3 separate regions of the Homo sapiens genome follow, and all the other regions are reported to be linked to region 1. Evidence: microRNA targets listed by miRTarBase, many of them from high-throughput screens and not tested one by one. Region 1 holds a microRNA gene; each other region holds the end of a gene's coding sequence.

Evidence for each region. The annotated mature microRNA hsa-miR-606 reads AAACUACUGAAAAUCAAAGAU and lies in region 1 at 3,057-3,077, opposite strand. An mRNA with a match to its seed (bases 2 to 7 or 8) in the 3' UTR can be bound and repressed. Matches are read on the target gene's strand: a 7mer-m8 pairs with bases 2 to 8, a 7mer-A1 pairs with bases 2 to 7 and ends in A, and an 8mer does both.
Region 2: miRTarBase lists SYT11 as a target of hsa-miR-606. The part of its 3' UTR that is shown has no 7-base or 8-base seed match.
Region 3: the mRNA of TMEM87B is a reported target of hsa-miR-606. Seed matches in the 3' UTR shown: 7mer-A1 at 6,221-6,227 and 7mer-m8 at 4,712-4,718.

The regions. Positions count from the first base shown.
Region 1 is chr10:75,548,469-75,555,594 of GRCh38, reverse strand. It overlaps MIR606 (microRNA 606), which reads right to left and starts at 3,137; the gene lies at 3,042-3,137. All of the region lies in intron 2 of LRMDA (leucine rich melanocyte differentiation associated), which reads right to left.
Region 2 is chr1:155,880,613-155,887,738 of GRCh38, reverse strand. SYT11 (synaptotagmin 11) reads right to left here. Exons shown (of 4, transcript NM_152280.5): 3 at 7,116-7,126; 4 at 2,540-6,541. The coding sequence ends at 6,231. Among named protein-coding and RNA genes, the nearest start is that of SYT11, 25 kb to the right of the region's middle.
Region 3 is chr2:112,115,265-112,122,390 of GRCh38, reverse strand. It overlaps TMEM87B (transmembrane protein 87B), which reads right to left. Exons shown (of 19, transcript NM_032824.3): 19 at 3,077-6,307. The coding sequence ends at 6,248. Among named protein-coding and RNA genes, the nearest start is that of FBLN7, 20 kb to the left of the region's middle.

The DNA.
Region 1 (7,126 bases):
GCAAAACACTGTCTCCCCTAAGGTAGGCAGCAGTTCATATTTCAGTTCAATTGTTTCAGCCTTATCTAGCCAGTGTGGAATCTGCACCACACATGAAGTTCAAAGTCCAGCTTAGATTTAGGTAGATTTTATACATGGAATTTGGGGCTCCACTCTGTGGCTCACTCCTTTCAGAGACCCCACTCCTTCCAGCAGCTAAGGTTGTCCTGAACTCTAGTCTCTGGTTATCCAAGCCAACCAAGATACATATTTTCTATCAAGTTATCTATCTTCCCACATGGCACAGACTGAAGGCTGTACTCAAGAGAAAAGCTGTAGAAAATGAGAAATTCACCCTAAGCCTTTCCCTTCTTCCAAGAGTCAGCTCCCCTTCCGGTAGCTGCCTGCATCTTCTCCCTTAGTAATCATGTAAGAAAAGTGTGGTTGCTCCATAGTTTTCTCTAGAACTCTCTCATAGGGCCATGGAGAGCAGACAGCCCAGGGCCCACCAAACTCCTCCCCATCAGAATCAGAGACTGTCCCTTCTCATCAGATACCCATGGATGCTTAAATCCCAGCCCCTCAGGACTAACTGAAAAGGACCAGTAGATCATCCTGTCCCATCTCCTATGGAGGAGAACAAGAATCCACTCCACCCTGGCTGATATTCTGCTTAAATCTCTCTACTGACAAGAGTATACAACTTTAAGGAAATATAAAAAGAAAAGTAAATGACTTGGACACATTACATACTTCATTTCTTTGCATCTACTCAATCATCCTTTAACGAAAGTATTATCATCCTCATTTTACAGATGAGGAAACTAGGCCTCAAAGAAAGATGTTAACTTGCCTATGTTCTCTCTTCTAGAAAATAGTACAGCCAGGTTTTGAATTTTGGTCACTACAACTCTAAAAGCTCACATCCGTTCCACATTGTCTATCCCACTTTCAACGTCTTTAAACATTGGCAAGTTCTTTCTTAGATTAAACTGAAGTCTGCCACCTTATAATTACCATCATTAGCTGTAATTCATAATTCTAGATTGGGAGCTCCTAAGAGTAGTGATAGGAACTCATTTGTCTTTGCATTCCTAGTACCTAGCACAGAGGAGGGGCTAAATAACTGATCGGTTAATTGATTAATGCCATTAGAAATGTCAGGTAAAAGTCTACACCTACCTCATCACATCAATCTCACAGCTATGTACAGTGACTATCATACACCATGTTCCTCTCTCCAACATCATTTCTCTTCTGCAGTATAAATGTTCCTTGTTTGTTTCATTGCTTCCCATTTGGAAGGATTTCTAGAATCCTCCTGATCACCCTGGACACACTGCAACTGACCAGTGTCACTTAAAATATCATCTAGGAATTCCATTACTTCTCAGGATGCAGAAAACTACAAATAAGCATCACTCCCATACTAAAAGGAAAAAGCCAGATAATCTACAAAATCATAACTTTTCTCCAACCCATCAGAGAGCTGAGGTTGCAAGGCAAATGGTGAACTTAATTTCAAAGTGTGACTAGTCCCTCCAAGAACAGATAGAACACACAAAGCATTTCTTCTTTAGCAGAGGACAGATTGAAAAGGTAGCCATCAAAAAAGTAAATAAAAAGAAAACAGCTAACATTTTAACAAATTTTTTAATGTTGGATATGGGCTAACAAGAAAGTTTAGAATTCCCAAGAGCCCCAGCCACAAGGAGAGTCTGCACTCACTCCTCATTTTTTTCCCCATGGTGCTCACAAGAGAGATTAAGACCAAACAACAGATAAAAGAGAGCCCCCTACACTGTGCACAGGCATGAAATCTTGCCTACTTCCCAGGCCCTTCTCTCATAAAAAAGAGAAGTCATAAGCCACTAAGGAGGAAGCCACTTCCTCCTTAAAAGGTGCGCTTTAACTAAAGGAGAGATAGAAGCAAAATATGTCTGCCTCTGGGTGAAGGGGTAGAAAACCTTTTCAGTTACAGAATCTTGCATAGATATAGAGGCCTGCTGCCCTGGAGGAGGGACAGAAAATGCTCTCCTACCCAAGAGTCCCAACAAATATGAGACAGAAAAAGTCTCATACCTGGGACCCAGATACACAGGGCCTACCTAAGACTGAGATCCTCCACCACACCACAAGCTTCACACTGAGTAATAAGCAACAGCAGTCTAGCCCTCAAAGAGGGGCAACAGCATTGAGAGAGACCCATTCTCTAGAGTAAGCATATGGGACCAGCTGAAAGCTGAGGATGAAATGGAAACTTGAGGAAAACCCTTCATCTCTCCAGGCTCACCACTAAGCAAAGGTAGCAGCAAGCCACCACTGGAAGAATTTGAAGCTGTCATAGAACAAAACTCAGATCTAGCTCAATTACTGACTGCATTGACTCAACTACCCACACTAACATCCCAACAGAAGAGTCTCCATTTCCAAGCATAAATACTATTTGCCTCAGTCTCTACTGTTCTTTTATATGCATTATCTGGCATTGAATCAAAAATTATCAGACAAAAAGCAAGAAAAAAAATGAAGACTCTTGGTCAAAAGATAAAGTAGTCAACATTACCAGAAACAGATGTGATGCAGATGTTAAAATTATCAGATAGGGACTTAAAATAACTATAATTAAGTTTTTAATCTAGAGAAAAAGGTAGACAACATGAATGAATAAATAATTGTAAAAGAGAAATGGAAACTTTTTCTTTAAAATGAGTCAAATGGAAAGGCTAGAAATCAAAAGGATAACAAAAAGGAAGAATTTCATCATAAGGTTTATCAACAAACTGAACACAGCAGAGAAAATGATTTACAAACTTGAAGATAGGTGAGTAGAAATGATCCAAAATAATAACAAGGAAAAAAAAAAGCATATGAGAGCTATAGGATAATAGTAAACAGTATAACATATATTTTGAATCCCAAAAGTAGGAGAGAGAGAAAAGGAAGCAGAAAAAAAAAGTTTGAAGAGATAATAGCTACGAATTTTCCAAAATTAATTAAAAAGAGCAAACCACAGTTCAAAGAACCTCAGAAAATCCCAAGTAGGGGATGAGGGGTAGAAGTGGTCAGGCACTTGTATCTTTGATTTTCAGTAGTTTACTATGATGGGGTGGATGGCACACCTCATCATAGTAAAACTACTAAAAACCAAGGATACAGTGAAAATTCTGAAAGCAGCCAGAGGGGGGGGAAAAAAAAAAAACACAGAACAAAGCTAAGAATGACAGCGCACTGCTCAACAGAAAGAATGCAATGCAAAAGAAAATGGAGTGACACCATTAAAGCACTGACAGAAAAAACTGTCCACATGGAATTCTATACAAGTGAAAGTATCTGCTAAAAAATGAAGGTAAGATAAAGAATTTTTCAGACACACAGAAACTGAAAAAATTCATTGCCAACATACCATACTATGATGATGTTAAATAAAGACCTCAGGCAGGAGTCTGGTACTAGAAGGAAATTCAGATCTACAGAAAGAAAGAGCTCTAGAAATGATTAAAATGTGGATAATAAAAGACAGATTGTTTTTATTTCTTTTATTTTTTAGAGACACGGTCTAACTCTGTTGCCTAGGCAGTGTCTAACTCTGTTGCCCAGGCTGGAGTGCAGTGGTGCAATCACAGCTCACTGAATCCTTGACCTCCTGGGCTCAGGCAATCCTCCTATCTCAGTCTACCAAGAGGCTGGAACTACAGGTTTGAGCCACCACACCCAGCTAATATTTTTTTTAATGTTTTGTAGAGAATGGGTCTCACTATGTTGCCCAGGCTGGTCTCAAACTCCTGGCCTCAAGCGATCCTCTCACCTAAGCCTCCCAAAGTGCTGGGATTACAGGCATAAGCCACAGTGCCCAGCAAATTTTTTCTTAATTTTAGCCTCTCAAAAAAAATAGCTGACTCAATGTGGCACGTATACACCATGGAATACTATGCAGCCATAAAAACGGATGAGTTCATGTCCTTTGCAGGGACATGCATGACGCTGGAAACCATCATTCTCAGCAAAGTAACACAAGAACAGAAAACCAAACACCACATGTTCTCATTCATAAGTGGGAGCTGAACAATTAGAACACATGGACACAGGGAGGGGAACATCACACACTGGGGCCTGTTGGGGGATGGGGGCTAGGGGAGGGGTAGCATTAGAAGACATACATAATGTAGATGATGGGTTAATGAGTGCAGCAAACCACCATGGCACGTGTATACCTATGTAACAAACCCGTATGTTCTGCACATGTACCCCAGAACTTAAAGTATTATAAAAAATAAATAAATAAATATCAAGTAAGCCAGGCCCTCCATGGTCTTACTTTTTAGTGCTTCTACACCTACATATCTCCTGGTAAGGTTGAACCACACTTTCTTTTGTTGCTCTACTTGTGTTCATACTGTTCTATTTCTGTGGAACATCCTTCCTCAAATCCTAGGTTAAAAAAAAAAAAAAAGATAGCTGACTGCAAAATATATTTAGTTTGCAAATAGATTAAACTAGAAAATATTTAAACAGAATATTTTCATTTTCCTATTAATCAAGTAAAAAAAACATTTTCCCAGGTTAAAAAAAAAAGATAATTGCTGTCTAAAGAAAAGATAGTACCAATGATCAGTAGAGTTTATAACATATGTAAAAGTAAAATGTAGACAATAGAACAAAGGATGGAAAGAAGAAAATGGAAGAGTACCATTGTAAGATTCTTAAACTATAAATAAAGCAATGTATTATCTGAAGGTAAACTGTGTTAAATATATATACTGTACACCCTAAAGCAATCACTAGAACATTTTTAAAAGGAGTAAACTTATAAGCCAGTGGTGGAGATGAAATGAAATCATAAATATATACAAATAATTCAAAAGAAGGCAGGAAAAGAAGGAAATAGAGAACATATAAGACACATAGAAAACAATTTGCAAAATGGTAGACTCAAAACCAACTATACCAATAGTTACATTAAGGATAAATGGCCTAAACATTCCAAATTAAAAAGCAGATATAATCAGACTCGTTATGAAAGCAAGACCTGACTATATGCTCTCTAAAAGAAATTCATTATAAATATAAACACAGAGACATATATTAACAGTGAAAAAATAGATACAACACAAACATTACACAAAAACTCCAGTCTGTATAATAACATAATACAAAGTAGGTTTCAGAACAAGGAATATGTTTAGGAACAAAGACTCAGTTCATCAAGAAGATATAACTAATGTATATGTATGCATCTAACAACAGAGTTCCAAAATACATAAAGAAAAATCTGATCAAACTGAAAGAAGTAGACAAAAACCAGGAAGAATAGGAGACTTGAATACTCCTCTCTTAGTAATTTATATAAAAAGTAGATCAAAAATAAGTAAAGATATAGAAGCCTGAACAACACTATCAACCAAATTGAATTAACTGACATCTATAGACGATTCCAACCAACAATAGCAGAATCCACATTCTTTTGAAGGGCCCATGGAACATTCACTAAGACAGACTAGTTTCTGAGCAAATGTTTATAGCTGCTTATTCAAAATAGCTAAAACTTTAAACAGTCCAAACAGCCATCAAATGGTGAATGTGTCAAGAATTGTGGTACATTCACACAATAGAATACTACTCAACAATAAAAAGAAACAAACTAGTGATACATGCAACTACATGGATGAATCTCAAAAGCATTATGCTAAGTGAAAGAAACTAGGCACACAAAAGGGTGAATACTGTATGATTCCATTTTTATGACATTCTGGGGATAGGCAAAGCCACTGAGACAATAATTACATCAGTGCATGCCATGAGCCAAGGAAGGAGAAAGGAGATTGAAAAGTGGGCACAAGGAAACTTTTTATGGCGATAAAAATGTTACGTCTTGATTATGATGATGGTGGTTACATGACTGTATGCATTTGTCAAAAATCATCTGTGCACTTAGAAAGGGAATTAATTGTGCATAAATTATATCTCACTAAATCTGACTTCAAAAATAAAAAATAACCTGAAGCAGTGGCATGTACCTGTAGTCTCAACTACTCAGGAGGCTGAGGCAGGAGGATCACTTTAGCCCAGGAGTCTGAGGTTGTAGTATGCTGTGACTGTGCCTGTGAATAACCTAGACAATGTAACAATACCTTGTCTCTAAAAATATATACAAATAAATAAAATTAAAAACAAATTTAAATACAGTGGTCTGTTGGTATGGGAGATTGGTTCCAGGACACCCCACAAATACCAAAATCTAAGCATGCTCAAGTCCTTTACAGGCAGCCCTTCATATGTGCAGGATCTGCATTCCAGATCAAACATCCCAATATTCAATTGATTGAATATTCTGAGCAAATATTTATTGCTGCTTATTCAAAATAGCTAAAACTTTAAACAATCCAAACAGCCATCAAATGGTGAACGTGTCAAGAATTCTGATACATTCACACAATAGAATACTACTCAACAATAAAAAGAAACAAGCTAGTAATACATGCAACCACATGGATGAATCTCAAAAGCATTATGCTTTTGAGTGAAAGAAACTAGGCACACAAAAGGGTGAATACTGTATGATTCCATTTCAGATTGAATATTCAATTTGTAGTTGGTTGAATTGGTGGATGCAGAAACAGTGGATATACAGGGCCAACTGTACCATTATCCAAGATAGGAAATTGTAGTAATAAACTAATAACAGTAATAATAAATAACTCTTAACATGGTCAGATCAGCATAGGTCTTGACTAACCTTCCTGGAAAAGACTTTTTGAGGAGTTACCTCCTTCTGTTGCCTCAAATGGAACTTCACTGAGCTCCTGGCTCCATTACAGATAGGTCTATACAACCCGAGTATGTATATTTCCGACAGATACTTAGATCTTTTTTATAGGCCAGAGATCAAAGAGATAAGAAATATTACATATTTCAATAACATGAAGGAATATGAAAATTCATTTTCATGTTTGTAATGAGCCACCCAGCATCTGGTTCTGAGTTGTTTTGCTTAAGAATGCAGAGAGTTCAAAAAGGAGTTCTGAGAAGCAGAAGACCATCTGGGGCTCCTGTGCTGAAAATAGGAACTACCCCTCATTGTTTAAGATACTGTGGGATGTCCAGGTCAGAAGGAACCTAATTAGCGAGGAAGGAGGCCTAGGCTGGG
Region 2 (7,126 bases), not on the chromosome of region 1:
GCTCCAGCCTGGGAAACAATTGTGAAACTCCATCTCAAAAAAAAAAAAAAAAAAAATTAGCGGGGTGTGGTGATGCATGCCTGCAATCCCAGCTACTCAGGAGGCTGAGGCACAAGAATCACTTGAACCCAGGAGGCGGAGGTTGCTGTGAGCCAAGATCATGCCACTGCACTCCAGCCTGGGCAACAGAGCAAGACTCTGTCTCCCGGAAAAAAAAAAAAGACCAGCCTTCCCAAGATAGTGAGGGCCACATCTCTACAAAACAAAATTTAAAAATTAGCCAGGTGGCCGGGCACAGTGGCTCAAGCCTGTAATCTCAGCACTTTGGGAGGCCGAGGCAGGTGTGTCACCTGAGGTCAGGAGTTCAAGACCATCCTGGCCAATATGGTGAGACCCTCATCTCTACTAAAAATACAAAAATTAGCCGGGCAAGGTGGTGCGTGCCTGTAATCCCAGCTACTCAGGAGGTTGAGGCACAAGAATTGCTTGAACCTGGGAGGCAGAGTTTATAGTGAGCCGAGATCGTGCCACTGCACTCCAGCCTGGGCAATAGAGTGAGACTCTGTCTCAAGAAAAAAAAAAAAAAAAATTAGCCAGGTATGGTGGTGTGCACCAGTCTCAGTTATGTGGGAGGCTGAGGTAGGAGGATCAATTTAACTCAGGAGGTCGAGACTGTAGTGAGCCATGATTGCGCCACTCTATTCCAGCCTGGGCAATAGAGTGACTGTTTTAAAACAAACAAACGAACAACTGGGTACTATGCTAAGTATCTAGGTGACAGGATCATTAGGATCCCAAATCCCAGCATCACTCAATAAAGCCAGATAACAAAAACCTGCACATGTGTCCCCCCTGAATCTAAAATGAAAGTTGAAAAAAAAAATTATGGCTGGGTGTGGTGGCTCACACCTATAATCCCAACACTTTGGGAGGCTGAGGCGGGTGGATCACGAAGTCAGGAGTTTGAGACCAGCCTGACCAACATGTTGAAATCCTGTCTCTACTAAAAATATAAAAATTAGCCGGGCATGGTGGCGCCCTCCTGTAGTCCCAGCTACTCAGGAGGCTGATGCAGGAGAATCGCTTGAACCTGGAAGGTGGAGTTTGTAGTGAGCCGAGATCACGCCACTGCACTCCAGCCTGGGCAACAGAGCAAGACTCTGTCTCAAAAAAAAAAAAAAAGAAAGAAAGAAAGAAAGAAAATTATTCAAGCCAAACATCAAACATTAACTTTTGCCATTTAATGTTTCACTCAGAAATTAAACTTTCATAACCCAGTGCAAGCTGCATAAAGAAAAAGATAATTTGACTGGGCGCAGTGGCTCACGCCTATAATCCCAGCACTTTGGGAGGCCGAGGTGGGTGGATCACAAGGTCAGGAGATCAAGACCATCTTGGCTAACACAGTGAAACTCCGTCTCTACTAAAAATACAAAACATTAGCCGGGCGTAGTGGCGGGCGCCTGTAGTCCCAGCTACTCAGGAGGCTGAGGCAGGAGAATGGGGTGAACCCGGGAGGCAGAGCTTGCAGTGAGCCAAGATTGCGCCACTGTACTCCAGCCTCGGCGACAAAGCCAGACTCCATCTCAAAAAAAAAAAAAAAAGAAAAGAAAAAGGTAATTTATTAAGCCTTGGAACTGAGAAGGCTCAGATCTGTCTGAAGACACGGCTTCATCTGAGGTCAAAGATGTCATGGAGTCTGATTTCTCTCTCCCCCTGTTTTAGCTGTACTTCTGTGCAGGCTCCATTCTCAGGCTCTCTCCTCTCTGGGGCACAGTGACTACAGAAGCCTCAGCCCCACATCCTCCCATGTTCAGGTCTAGGGAGATCCTTCATAGCTCCTGACAGGCCTTGAGGCCGGGTGCGGTGGCTCACGCCTGTAATCCCAGCACTTTGGGAGGCTAAGGCAGAAGGATAACTTGAGGCCGGGAGTTTCAGGCCAGCCTGGCCAATATGGTGAGACCCCCATCTCTACTAAAAATACAAATATTAGCCAAACTTGGTGGCACGCACCTGTAGTCCCAGCTGCTTGAGGTCGCTGGAACCCAGGAGGCGGATGTTACAGTGAGCCGAGATTGAGCCACTGCACTCCAGCCTGGGCAACAGAGCGAGACTGTCTAAAAAAAAAAAAAAAAAAAAAAAAAAGTAAATGAATGAATGAGGGAACAGAATTGGCCTGTCTCAGGATTGCTTTTTGGGATAAATATTTCCAATTAAAGGGGCAGATTGATTCTCAGCACTACGAACCATCATCTCTCCCTCTGGTAGTGATGGTCTCAGAAATTACATTTCAAGAGGAAAACAGAAAGACCAGAAGTCCTAACTACAGCAAGCAGCAAACCAACTCACTTGTCAAATGAGAGTATCTAGGATGGGAGCCTGGAATCTGCATTTTTAAACAAGTGCCTCAGATGATTCTGAATCAAGTGGTCTGGGGACCACAGTTTGGAAAACACACCCTAGAACATCCTTTTGGAGTCTGAGTGTTAACCTCACTGAGAGTCCTCCAGCTTTCCAGAGAATCAGGCTGACATCACTGTGCCTATGTAATGTGAATCAGTCTTTATTTTGCACTTGTGTGGTGCATTAACAAATTCAACATACAAGATAGCATTACATATTGTAGATTAGCATTACAGCATTATGCAATTTCACACAATTCATGTTAGCTTTTTCAGTTTTCTTTTTTTTTCAAAATTTGACACATTTATTTTATTTTTGAGTTTCATTTTTACAAGAGAAGACACAAGGTAAAGAAAGACAACCACTTTGGAGAGGGATCATGGTGAGGGCAATGTCACTGTCATGGCCATAGTACAAGCCTTCCAAGAAAAGGGACCTGCGTTATTCCCTCTCCTGAGCAAGCTGCCCCTGTCCCACAAACCAGTTCTATCTGTTTTCACATCTAGAGCACTGTCCATAAACATGTCCATCTTGGCTGTGCTCCAGTGAGATGAACTGAAAGAAGGAATAACTCATAAAGGGACCTTTGTTATTAAGAAAAATTCTTGTCTTCCCAAAGGAATCAAGATCTCTTCAGAGAAGGAGCAACTGTTGGAAAATCAGAAGTGACCATTCCCTAACCTATTCCTGACCACGAATGCCTTGTGCAAAAGCTAAGATGTGACTCTCTTGTCTTTCTTTCAACTGACTCTTAGGAGAAGGCATTCCTCCTCCACTCTTATCAGTTAGCTCTGGAAAGAACAAATGTGAAAGCCAAAGTCAGCTAAGAAACTTTGAGACGGCAAAGTCAAGGGCACGATGGATCAGGCCTGAGGTAGGAGGGAGGAGCCCTGCACTGTCCGCCTCTTTGCCTTTTTCTGGCAAAGACACTGAGGCAGTTCCTAGGCTACAGAACAACTGGTTCCTCCCCTGTCACCTCAGCACCCACTGCTCAGTAGACCCAAAGATGCAAGGAATAAAGCTACAAGGAAATGGGGAAGAGAGAGGAGAGTGGGGTGAGGCTGTTTTCCCAGACGTTTGTCAGGAGGAGCTACAGAGGCACACACAGCAGGGCAAAGACCAGACTATCTCCACCTGTTGTTTTGCATTGTTTCTGGGAAGGAAACAAAAGCGGGTTTGCTCAGCGATTTCTGATCTTTAGACATTAAGGCGATGAAGAGGAACCATTTAAATTTTTTCCTAATGGGGCTTCAGAATGCTCCTGTCAGATTTACATTAAACTATCTCAAAATGCATTTTTAGAAAACAAAAATTATTTTCTTCTACTTATGATACAGTATTTACATTTCATGGGGTATAGGACAGAGACTAGTGGTATGACCCCAACTGATGGTGAAGTTGTGAGTCAGATTATGGGGGGTGGGGGTTGGCAGGGACAAGAACAGAGAGTAGGCTTTGTGACTGCTCAGAATTGCTCTGCATTGTCAAGAACATGGGCTGAAATCAAACAAAAGGTTTAGGGGGAGCAGAATGGTTTTAAATCCACAAAAGCTGAGGGAACACTGAAAGCAAGATCACCCCCCCGTCCATAGAGACTCAGCTTTCCGACTCCCTTCGCCAAAGCAAGGTTAAAAGTGATGTTCTTCTATGGAAGTGAACACTTCAGTCTCAACTAACCTTTCACGCCCTGGATCAAGCTGTTAAGCAACAGCTTGACTGAGTTCCTCCTCAGGTGGGCAAAAATATCTACTGCCTATCCAAGTTTACCTAGTTTATTTTAATTAATTAATTAATTAATTTTTGAGACAGGATCTCACTCTGTTACCCAGCCCAGAGTGCAGTGGCATGATCATGGCTCACTGCAGCCTCTACCTCTGGGCTCAAATGATCCTCCCACCTCAGCCTCCTGAATAGCTGGGACCACAGGCGTGCAGCACCACACCTAGTTAATTTTTTGTATTTTTGATAGAGATGGAGTTTCGTCATGTAGCCCAGGCTGGTCTTGAACTCCTGGGCTCAAGCGATCTTTCCACCTCGGCCTCCCAAAATACTGGGATTACAGGCGTGAGCCACTGCGCCCGGCCCCAAGTTTACCTATTATCCATGGAGTCTGTGCCATCTGCAAAGTCTCAACGTTGGAGACACAGCTGCTGTAGGAGTAAAGAGACTTGAATTCTAATCCCAGAAAGATGCTGAATCTCTCTCAACCTCTATTGCCCATTGGTAGAAGAAGAATTGCATCCTGTAGTTCCTCCATCCCTCCACCATGTGGTAAGACATAAATTCCAAGAATTATGCAGCTCGTTTTGAGGAAAAGAATGCTCTGAAAGAATCCAACTTATCTTCATTCACTCAGTCACACTGTTATTTTTTTAAGAGCTAAATTTTTATTGAAAAATTTAAGGAGAACTTCTGAGGGCCCCTGTTTTATGAAGCAAAGCTAACCTCATTACAACATCTAAGCTATTTGAGAAGACTCTAAAGCATCTCCATGGTCGGCATTTCCAGAAAAACAAAGGCCAGTGTAATTCTTCAAACCTCTGATGACTTCCAACCCATCAACCAAGAAATGGCTGTCACTACAGTAGATAGCTGCAAAGGGGAATGGCTGTCGTCACTTGTCTCCTCTCCTTGTCCTTATACCTGAAAACAGCTTTTGGGATCAGCTGGATGTGTTCATTGGTACTATCCTATAGCTGAATTTGAAGTTTCCAAAGCTCCTTTTAGAGAAGTCATCAAGTTTGATAAAATCCAAGTTCTGATGTCTTGGATGCATAAGTCTGATGTATTCTCTGTGCTTCAGTTAGGTCTGTCAGTTAATTATAGACTGCCTTTTACTACTTCATAGCAGAAGAGCTGATAGCAAAAATACCCCATTTCTCAATTCCTCTTTCTCCTGCAAACCTTGCCTCATCCACCCCACCTTTGTTTCTTGGCTTACTGCAGACCTCTAGACCTTGAGGTCAAAGAGCAGAGATATAAGAGGCAATAAAAAGAAAAGATGGGAATGATGAAAACATGAGGTTTTATAAGAGCAAAATTTTCTTCTGCAGAGGTGGGGAGTGGGAGAAATTCTCCAGAGAAGCCCAATAAAAAGAAGCCAATTTCAGGTAATCAGCAAATACAATTCAGCACAAAACACAATTTCCATGGATTAAAATCTGCAACTTGATATTGGCAGTTAGGCTAATTTCTTCAGTTTGTATTAGACATGCAAGTATATGGTTACATTGTTATATATAGATTTATAGGGGTCTTTCCCTCTCTTTTGTCCCCCATTAAAAAAAAAAAACAAAACAAAACCAGAGGCCGGGCACGGTGGCTCGCACCTGTAATCCCAGCACTTTGGGAGGCCGAGGCGGGTGGATCACCTGAGGTCTGGAATTCGAGACCAGCCTGGCCAACATGGTGAAACCCATCTCTACTGAAAATACAAAAAATTAGCCGGGCATGCTCGTGGGTGCCTGTAATCCCAGCTACTTGGGAGGCTGAGGGAGGAGAATCACTTGAACCTGGAGGGCAGAGGTTGCAGTGAGTTGAGATCTCACCATTGCACTCCAGCCCGGGCAACAAGAGCGAAACTCCACCTCAAAAAAAATAAAGTAAAATAAAAGATTCTAGCGCCTTGCAAAGCAGAAAAAAAAACATCATTGCTAAGAACTGATCTGCAGCTGTGGTCATATAGGGTGTTCTTTGTGGAATTTGTTTTGTAAGAAATTTTCTTCTACAACTAAAATGAGGTTTGGAGTCCACTTCTCTGTCATCTTTTTCCCCTCCACATCCCTCCCCAGCTTGGCCCCCGGGGATTAGAGGAGAGAAGAACAGGATTAGTACTCGCTCAGACTGTGCCACTTGGCCACAGGCTTGCGGGGGCTCTCGCAGACCTCTCTCCAGTGTTCAGCACCACTGGCTGTGACACTGTGTGCCCCCAGGATCAGCCTCCCCACCACCTCATTCTTGGTGGTGCGATCGAAGTCGATAACGAGGAACTCGATGCTGATATCAGGCAGGAGGTCAGTGGGGATGTCGTAGATGAAAGATTCATTGAAGATGGGGTTCAAAGTGCACTTCTTCACATGGGTTTTCTTCTTGGCAATGCGCTTTCTGCCGTAGTAGACGTTCACCTTGACATAAGGATCTGGGGCCCCCAAAGAGATAAGAAAAAGGGAGACAGACCTATGACACAGTCCTCTCCTATGTAATGGTAATTTCATGTTGGGAAAGGGGGGGCTCTGTTGTTCGTATCTTTGATGGCCATCCCATGTGTTCTTTAGTGATTGCACAATAAACACACACTGACTATATGTGAGTCTGCCTGCCTGGATGAGGGGCCAAGGAAACCAAGCAGGAATAGAACAGAACAACTTTCTCAGGTTAGGTCTGAAGAAATCCCATGATACCAAGAAGTATATTAAAGGGCACAGAGACAAATGCCTGCAGCCTTTTTGAGAAGTCTCTCTTAGCACCTGGCATGAATATTATTTAGGATACCTTGCCAAATGTAAAGACCCCATTTGTTCAACTGAAGAATCTTCCTAGCCAGGGAAATCTATTGGACGTAGATACTCATCAGGAAGAGAATGTCTACAGAAAGAGGAGCAGATTAAAAGTGAAAGAGGCAAGGATCTTGAAGTGTGGAGGTCTATCTGGGCCACAGGCAAGGAGTCGGGGATGGTTCAGACAGTAAGAAATAGGTTGAAGTAAATAGCTGCTACCTGAGAGA
Region 3 (7,126 bases), not on the chromosome of region 1:
ACTGAACCCCAAGAAAATCTCCACTTATCAAATGAAGAAACAGAGAACTGGAATTATGACCATGTAGAAACAAGAATTTGGAAGCTGAAAAGACAATGAAGTCATATGAAATGACGTAGCAAGTGGTCACCAAAGTATATAAAATGTATTTCAAGTTTTGATGCCCAGTCCAACCCTTCTGTGGCATCTCTTTCCCCCTGACAATAAGGACCAGAGGTGAGAAAAACAAACTAGGAGGCAGTCTTCAACCCTGGTCTGAGGGAACTGTAGCCAGTGACACTTTCCTGGTCCTCCATTTCCTCATTTGTAAGATGATCTTAGAGGCTCTTTCCAGCTTTAAAGTTTTAAAATATACCAAAATAACTGTTTTTCCAGGGCAGTGCTGTGTGAATTATTTTTAAGTTTTTTTCTTCATCCCCAAATTTGTTTAGTGGCATTTGGTAAGTAAATTTATAAAATCTGTAAAGGGAAGAATTAGAGAAAAGAAAAAAAGATTAGAACTCTTCAAGAGACATTACTTTGGCACCACCTGCTGGATAGCTTTCACATTTTTTCCTGTGCATAAACTTCCATTGCAGCTTCTTGTTTTTTCAAAATGATTTTAAGGAAATACTGTCAAAATTATTTACATCTGAAATCAGATATAAATCAGGTCAGCCTCTGACCAGATGTAAATATCAGGTCACCTCTGTTAATGTAGCTGTACATTCCCTATCACTTAAGGGGCATAAAACTTGCTCTGGGTAACTTCATCTTAATACAAGTGAATCAATCCTGGAATGTGTTTGAATTTCATATGCCATTTGTTTCAATTGAGTCTCAGTCACCCCTCAATCATTGCTGTACCTTTCACATTAACCTTAGCTGCCTCCTGAAGGCTATGCACCAGGCACTTTAGATACATTGTCTTACTTAACCTTCTCTAACAAGCAAACAGCACTTTGTTAACCGAAACTCCTCTCTCCTCAGGACTTCGAGGACAACCCTTCTAGGATGATTCCCACCAGTATTATACCAGCCTTGCCACCTGCCAGGATGGTAAACTATCAAATTATTTAACCTCTCTCTCAGTTTTCTAATCTATGAACCAAGGGAACTAATACTTCATTGGCTACTGTGAGAATACAGTGGTTACCAAAGCCTGGCACTCTGCAAGTGCTCCCAAGTCTGCCAAAATGGTCATCAGTCTTATGACAACAGCCCTTCCTTTCCCTCTGGGACTATCCATCTTGTCCCTCTCACTCCTCACATGTCAAAGGTGGGAGAATGTCCATGAAGAAAATTCTCCATGTCCCATCTACTTACAGCAAGATGGATTTTTTAAATTAATTAAGATTAAGCTGTGAACCAAGACACACTTTTCTAGATTTTCTGATACATAGTCTAAGGCACTATTATTATTATTATTATTATTATTATTATTATTATTATTGAGAGTCTCGCTCTGTCGCCCAGGCTGGAGTGCAGTGGCACAATCTCGGCTCACTGCAAGCTCCGCCTCCCAGATTCACGCCATTCTCCTGCCTTAGCCTCCCGAGTAGCTGGGACTACAGGTGCCTGCCACCATGCCCAGCTAATTTTTTTCTATCTTTAGTAGAGATGCGGTTTCACTGTGTTAGCCAGAATGGTATCGATCTCCTGACCTCGTGACCCACCCATCTCGGCCTCCCAAAGTGCTGGGATTACAGGTGTGAGCCACTGCGCCTGGCCAAGGCACTATTATTTTTACATATTTATGTTGAATATGTTTCTTAGAAAATTAGGGGTAAAAATTAGGCCCTAGGGTATGGTGGGTCCGCAAGATGGAAATAAACCCCGGGTGTCTGAGGGACATGTGGAGGAGGGTGGCCCTTCCCACCTCTATACCTACTGAAGAATTGTCACATGAGCAAGAAATAAACTTTTTGTCTTAAGTTTCTGAAAGGCTAAAATCAAGTTGTGACCACAGCCTGGCTGAGCCTCAACACTAACCATGTATGCCACCCCAGTGCTTTTCCACTCAATCCTTTCTCTACTTTTTTTTTTTTTTTTTTTTTGAGACGGAGTCTCGCTCTGTCGCCCAGGCTGGAGTGCAGTGGCCCAATCTCAGCTCACTGCAAGCTCTGCCTCCCGGGTTCACGCCATTCTCCTGCCTCAGCCTCCCGAGTAGCTGGGACTACAGGCGCCCGCCACCACGCCCGGCTAATTTTTTGTATTTTTTTTTTAGTAGAGACAGGGTTTCACCATGTTGGCCAGGATGGTCTCGATCTCCTGACCTTGTGATCCACCCACCTTGGCCTCCCAAAGTGCTGGGATTACAGGCGTGAGCCACTACGCCCGGCCTTTTTTTTTTTAAATTATCTTTATTTCAAAATAATAATTAATTATGTAATTATTTATGTAATTAAGAATTATGTAATTACTTAATTCTGTAACTTTACAGAAAAGTTGGAAGATAGAATGCATTTTTTCTGAACCATGAGAGTAAGTTGCTCTACCTTATTTTTACATAGATAAGCATTCACATATGTGCCACTGCATCACAGTTCTTATAAGTATTTTTATTATAAATTCTTCATAATTTAATGGCTATACAATATCTCATAAAGTAGCTGGTTAAACCATAATTCACTTAACTATGATATTGTTTGTCTCTAATTTTATTTCTACTTTAATATTATAATAAACACTTTTGTGGAGAAACTTTATTCTGTATTTTGAATCATTTTTTAAAATATCACCAGAATTGACATTATTCAAAGGTTATAAACACATTGTTGAACTTTTCACAAAAAAGGAAATCAACTATATTACCATCATTAATAAGTGTGCTCATTTCATCAGACTTTGAAAGCAAAAGGATTTTACAAATATACCATAGTACAAACTTATGTTAATTTGATTTTTTAAACTATCCCCTATCTTTTGTTTTGCATTTCTTTACTACTACTGAGGTTGAGCACTTTTCCATGTTTGATTAGCTGTGCCTCCTGTTTTAAGAATTTTATGTCCTGCCATCTATTGGAGTCTATATATGTCTATATGTCCTACAGATTTATATAATCTAGCACCAATAAATACTATCAAGAATCAATCATTCAAATTCAGAGCATTTTTATTAAAAGAACAAAATATTAAGGCACAAAATACATCAATTTTTCAAATGAAAACCCTTCAAACGGTTATGTCCTACATTCAACGAAACTTCTTCCAAATTACGGAATAATTTAACTTTTTAAAATAGAAAAATACAAGTTCTTAAATGCCTAAAATTTCTCCCCAAATAAATGTTTTCTTAGTTTTAATGAAGTCTCTTCATGCAGTACTGAGCTCCAATATTATAATGTACACTTCCTTAAAAATCTAGTTTTGCCACTTATATACATTCAATATGTTTAACCAGTATATTAACCAGTATATTAACCAATATGTTAAACTTCTTTTAAGTATAAGGCTTGGTATTTTGTATTGCTTATTGCATGCTTTGATCATACAAAGACACAAGTACCAGAACTAGTGATTATAAATCTAGCATAGCATCTGTCAACTTTAGTCATGTACAGCCTAGTGCAACAGACTCGAACTTTTTTTTAAAAAAAGGATACATAACTCAAAATGTATATGTACATTTTTTATACTTTCAGCTTGACAGTATAGTAATGTAAACATTGTACTGTAATACAAGGGGAAAAGGTGGTATTTTCTACAGGATGTGTAAGTTAAAATATTATTTTCTTTACAAGAAAAATATGGGAACATTCTATCATCTCTCAGGCTTAAAAAATTCACATATTCACATATTTTTCCTTATTTTTACAATAAAATTAATTGCTATCTAAAGCAGATATTTAAATACTAATCTAAATCAAATCATGAAAATTCCCTTTTAAGCAAATTTCACACATCGTATGAATGAATGGCATAACCAGAACACTTAAGCATTTTGCCTAGAAAAACATCAAACCAGACCCGTATCCTCACTAACAGTGAGACCCACCCTGATGGGGGCATGCTAAAAGTAAACTGATTTGAGTGCCTCAGAGGCCCTGATGGCCAGTTTCAGGAAACTGTGCAGAAACAGGGATGATGAGCTGCTCAGTAGCCCTAGGTATAACTTCTCCTGGTGTCCTTCCTGTGAACTACAGCTATGGCACTAGAGCACCCCTCTTGCGTATGTAAGGGGCCTAAGAAGACCCTTCATAGAAATACTCGATCCAGGTCATCAGTCATCAAGAGATGGCACAAATATTACTGAAGGTGACAGACAGCACATGCCCTTCTAGTAACAGTATTTGTAATGAGGTTACTAGGAGGGAATTCTGCTTTCTCTGGATGGAAGAAAAGTTTGCACTGCAGCCTGTAGCTGAGCTACAGGGTAGCATCATTTATCCTACCAGCTGTAGAAAGACATGTTTTGGTAAACATTACTGAGATTCTGTCAGAGACAGTTTCCCTTTATTAACATACTCACCATTAACTCCACACTCCCACTCTACCAGATTTGCAGCTCCTACTGCCTGCAAGCCCAATATTCCACATTTTAAAATTCAACTAGAGCCACATAATGAGTAGGGGGTCAATCTGTCTCAAAACTTGGGGAATGGGGTATTAGATAAAAATGTTACTGGGCTAAGGGGAGAATACAACAGAACATAAATGCTGGGAATTATAGTGGGTGGGAACCCATTACTGCAGCAGAAACTGAAATAAGAAATGGAATTCACAATTGTTAAACTACTTTTTTTTTTTCTCCCTAGGAAGGATATCCCAAAGCAAGGGCATCTTGAAAAGCATGATTTTCTCGGTAATGTTTGCCAACACTGTTCACTTTCCACATGGTCACGACTGAAAACACATTTACCAATACCTTTCAAGCGATATGACTACCAGAAATAGATCTTCTTTACTACCCTCTCTGAAATGAGTAAACAAGAAATAAATTCAGAAGGTAGGCTTTTGAAAGAAAAAGAAAAAAAATTGCTTGCGGCTTCACAGTGAAAAAAATTGGAGTGTTTGTGCCGGTTAAGATTTTAATGTTTTCTTAATCAAAATTCTCTGAAGTCATTCTCAATTTACAAGGTTAGAACTCCTTCAAAGAAAAGACATACAAGACTCTAGCTTTAATTATTATTCTAAATGTCCACTAGCCCTGTATCTTTGGTCATGAAAGCAGCAAAACATTCACATTTTCATCATACTACATTCAATTGCCTTTCAAGTTTAGAACATTCTACATTTTAAAAAAAGACATTAAAGCAAAAGATTTCATATTACACATTACAAATATATGATGTAACGAAATAAGGTATAAAACATGGTTGAAGCTTAAGAAATTAATTATAAAATCAATAGTGATGTAGCATGCAACTAAATGTATGTTTTTATTATGAAATGTAATATGCCAAGATTATGTAAAAGATACAGTTCTAATTTCCACAAAGTTCACCAGTAATGGGTCTCCCAGCTTGCCAGTTAGGAAGTGCTCTGGGGGAGCCACGTGGCCACCACCCACCCCAGCACACTCAGCAGCATCGCATGTACACATGGCCTGAGTGAGGGACAATGAGGGTAATTCTTTGGTAGTGACCCTCAAGACATCTCTCTCTGTGCACTTGTGTTCCCCTGAGCTCAGAGAAGACCTAACTCCATGATTTGATGTGCATGATGAGACTCAAACAAGGGCTTTGTATAGATTTTTTAAAAAGGGTGGGTTGGGGGGGAGCGGAAAAAACCTATAAATATGCCTATATTCAAACATTAACTGTTTTACTTAATATCAAATCACTTCAGTACAAATGTCAAAGAGAAGTATTATTGCATCTAGTAAACCTAAGACACAGAGACACGGATATACTATACTCCAGAAAATCACAATATCTACCTCAAAGGTGACTAGAAGAAAGACCAAGGGTATTTATTAAAAAACATTTTTCTTTAATCTGGAATTGTCATATGTTCCAGAGAAAAGAGGGAGAACCCAAACCCACAGGCCTGCCACCTATCAGCTAAGAGGCATCTGTGCAGATCTTTATCATAATACTTTCCTCAGGTTATTTCCAAATCCAATTTAATGGATATTCAACTGACACTCAAGAGTCAGCTTTAAAAGGACTATAGAACCTCCTACCATCTGAATTCTTCATTTTGATACACAGACTTCCAAGATAACACAATAAAAATTTTTAGGCAATATCAAATCAAAGCTCACTTTCAGTCTTGATGAAGGATAGTCCTTCAGGCTTAACTACATTTCTTATACGGGTTCCAATCACATTATCTTTTCTGAAGAGAACATTTTTTCAGCCATTTCAGATCTGGTCATGATTTCCTGAAGAAAAAAAAAGAAGATATGTATCAACATGTTGATACTACTTCCAGAACCCTAACAAAAATTTTCTAATCTTTCAACAGCCACATTTAGGGAAACTAAATATATTCCATAATATACATGGAAATATTACATACAGAAAATAAAAGGCCAAGTACAGTGACTCATGCCTGTAATCTCAGCACTTTGGGAGGCCGAGGCGGGAAGGCTGCTTGACGCTAGGAGTTCGAGACCGGCCTGGGCAACATAGAGAGACCTCATCCTTATAAAAAATTTAAAAATTAAAAAATAACCATATAATCCATACTCTCCAATAATGTATAGTCAGTTATCTGCTGAGAAGTTCAGAAAACTTCAACTTCCTGCTAGCTAGAAAACATGTCAAGTTCAGAATCTCCAATGAGAGGCAGGAATAGAGCTAAAATGGATTTCTTAGGCCTAGCTCATCTAGAGATTTGCCTCACTTTACTAAATTAATGTATTATTGAAATTACAAATGAATTATTTACTAAAACTTTAAATACAGAAAGATGTAGCATAAAATTCCTTTTAAAGGGGCATTTAAAGTACTTTTAATCTACATGCTACATCTTTCTGTAGAGTTATGAATCTTTCTGTAATGCTACCTCTTTCTGTAGAGTTATGAATCTTTCTGTAATGCTACATCTTTCTGTAGAGTTATGAATCTTTCTGTAATGCTACATCTTTCTGTAGTTATGAATCTTTCTGTAATGCTACATCTTTCTGTAGAGTTATGAATCTTTCTGTAATGCTACATCTTTCTGTAGAGTTATGAATCTTTCTGTAATGCTACATCTT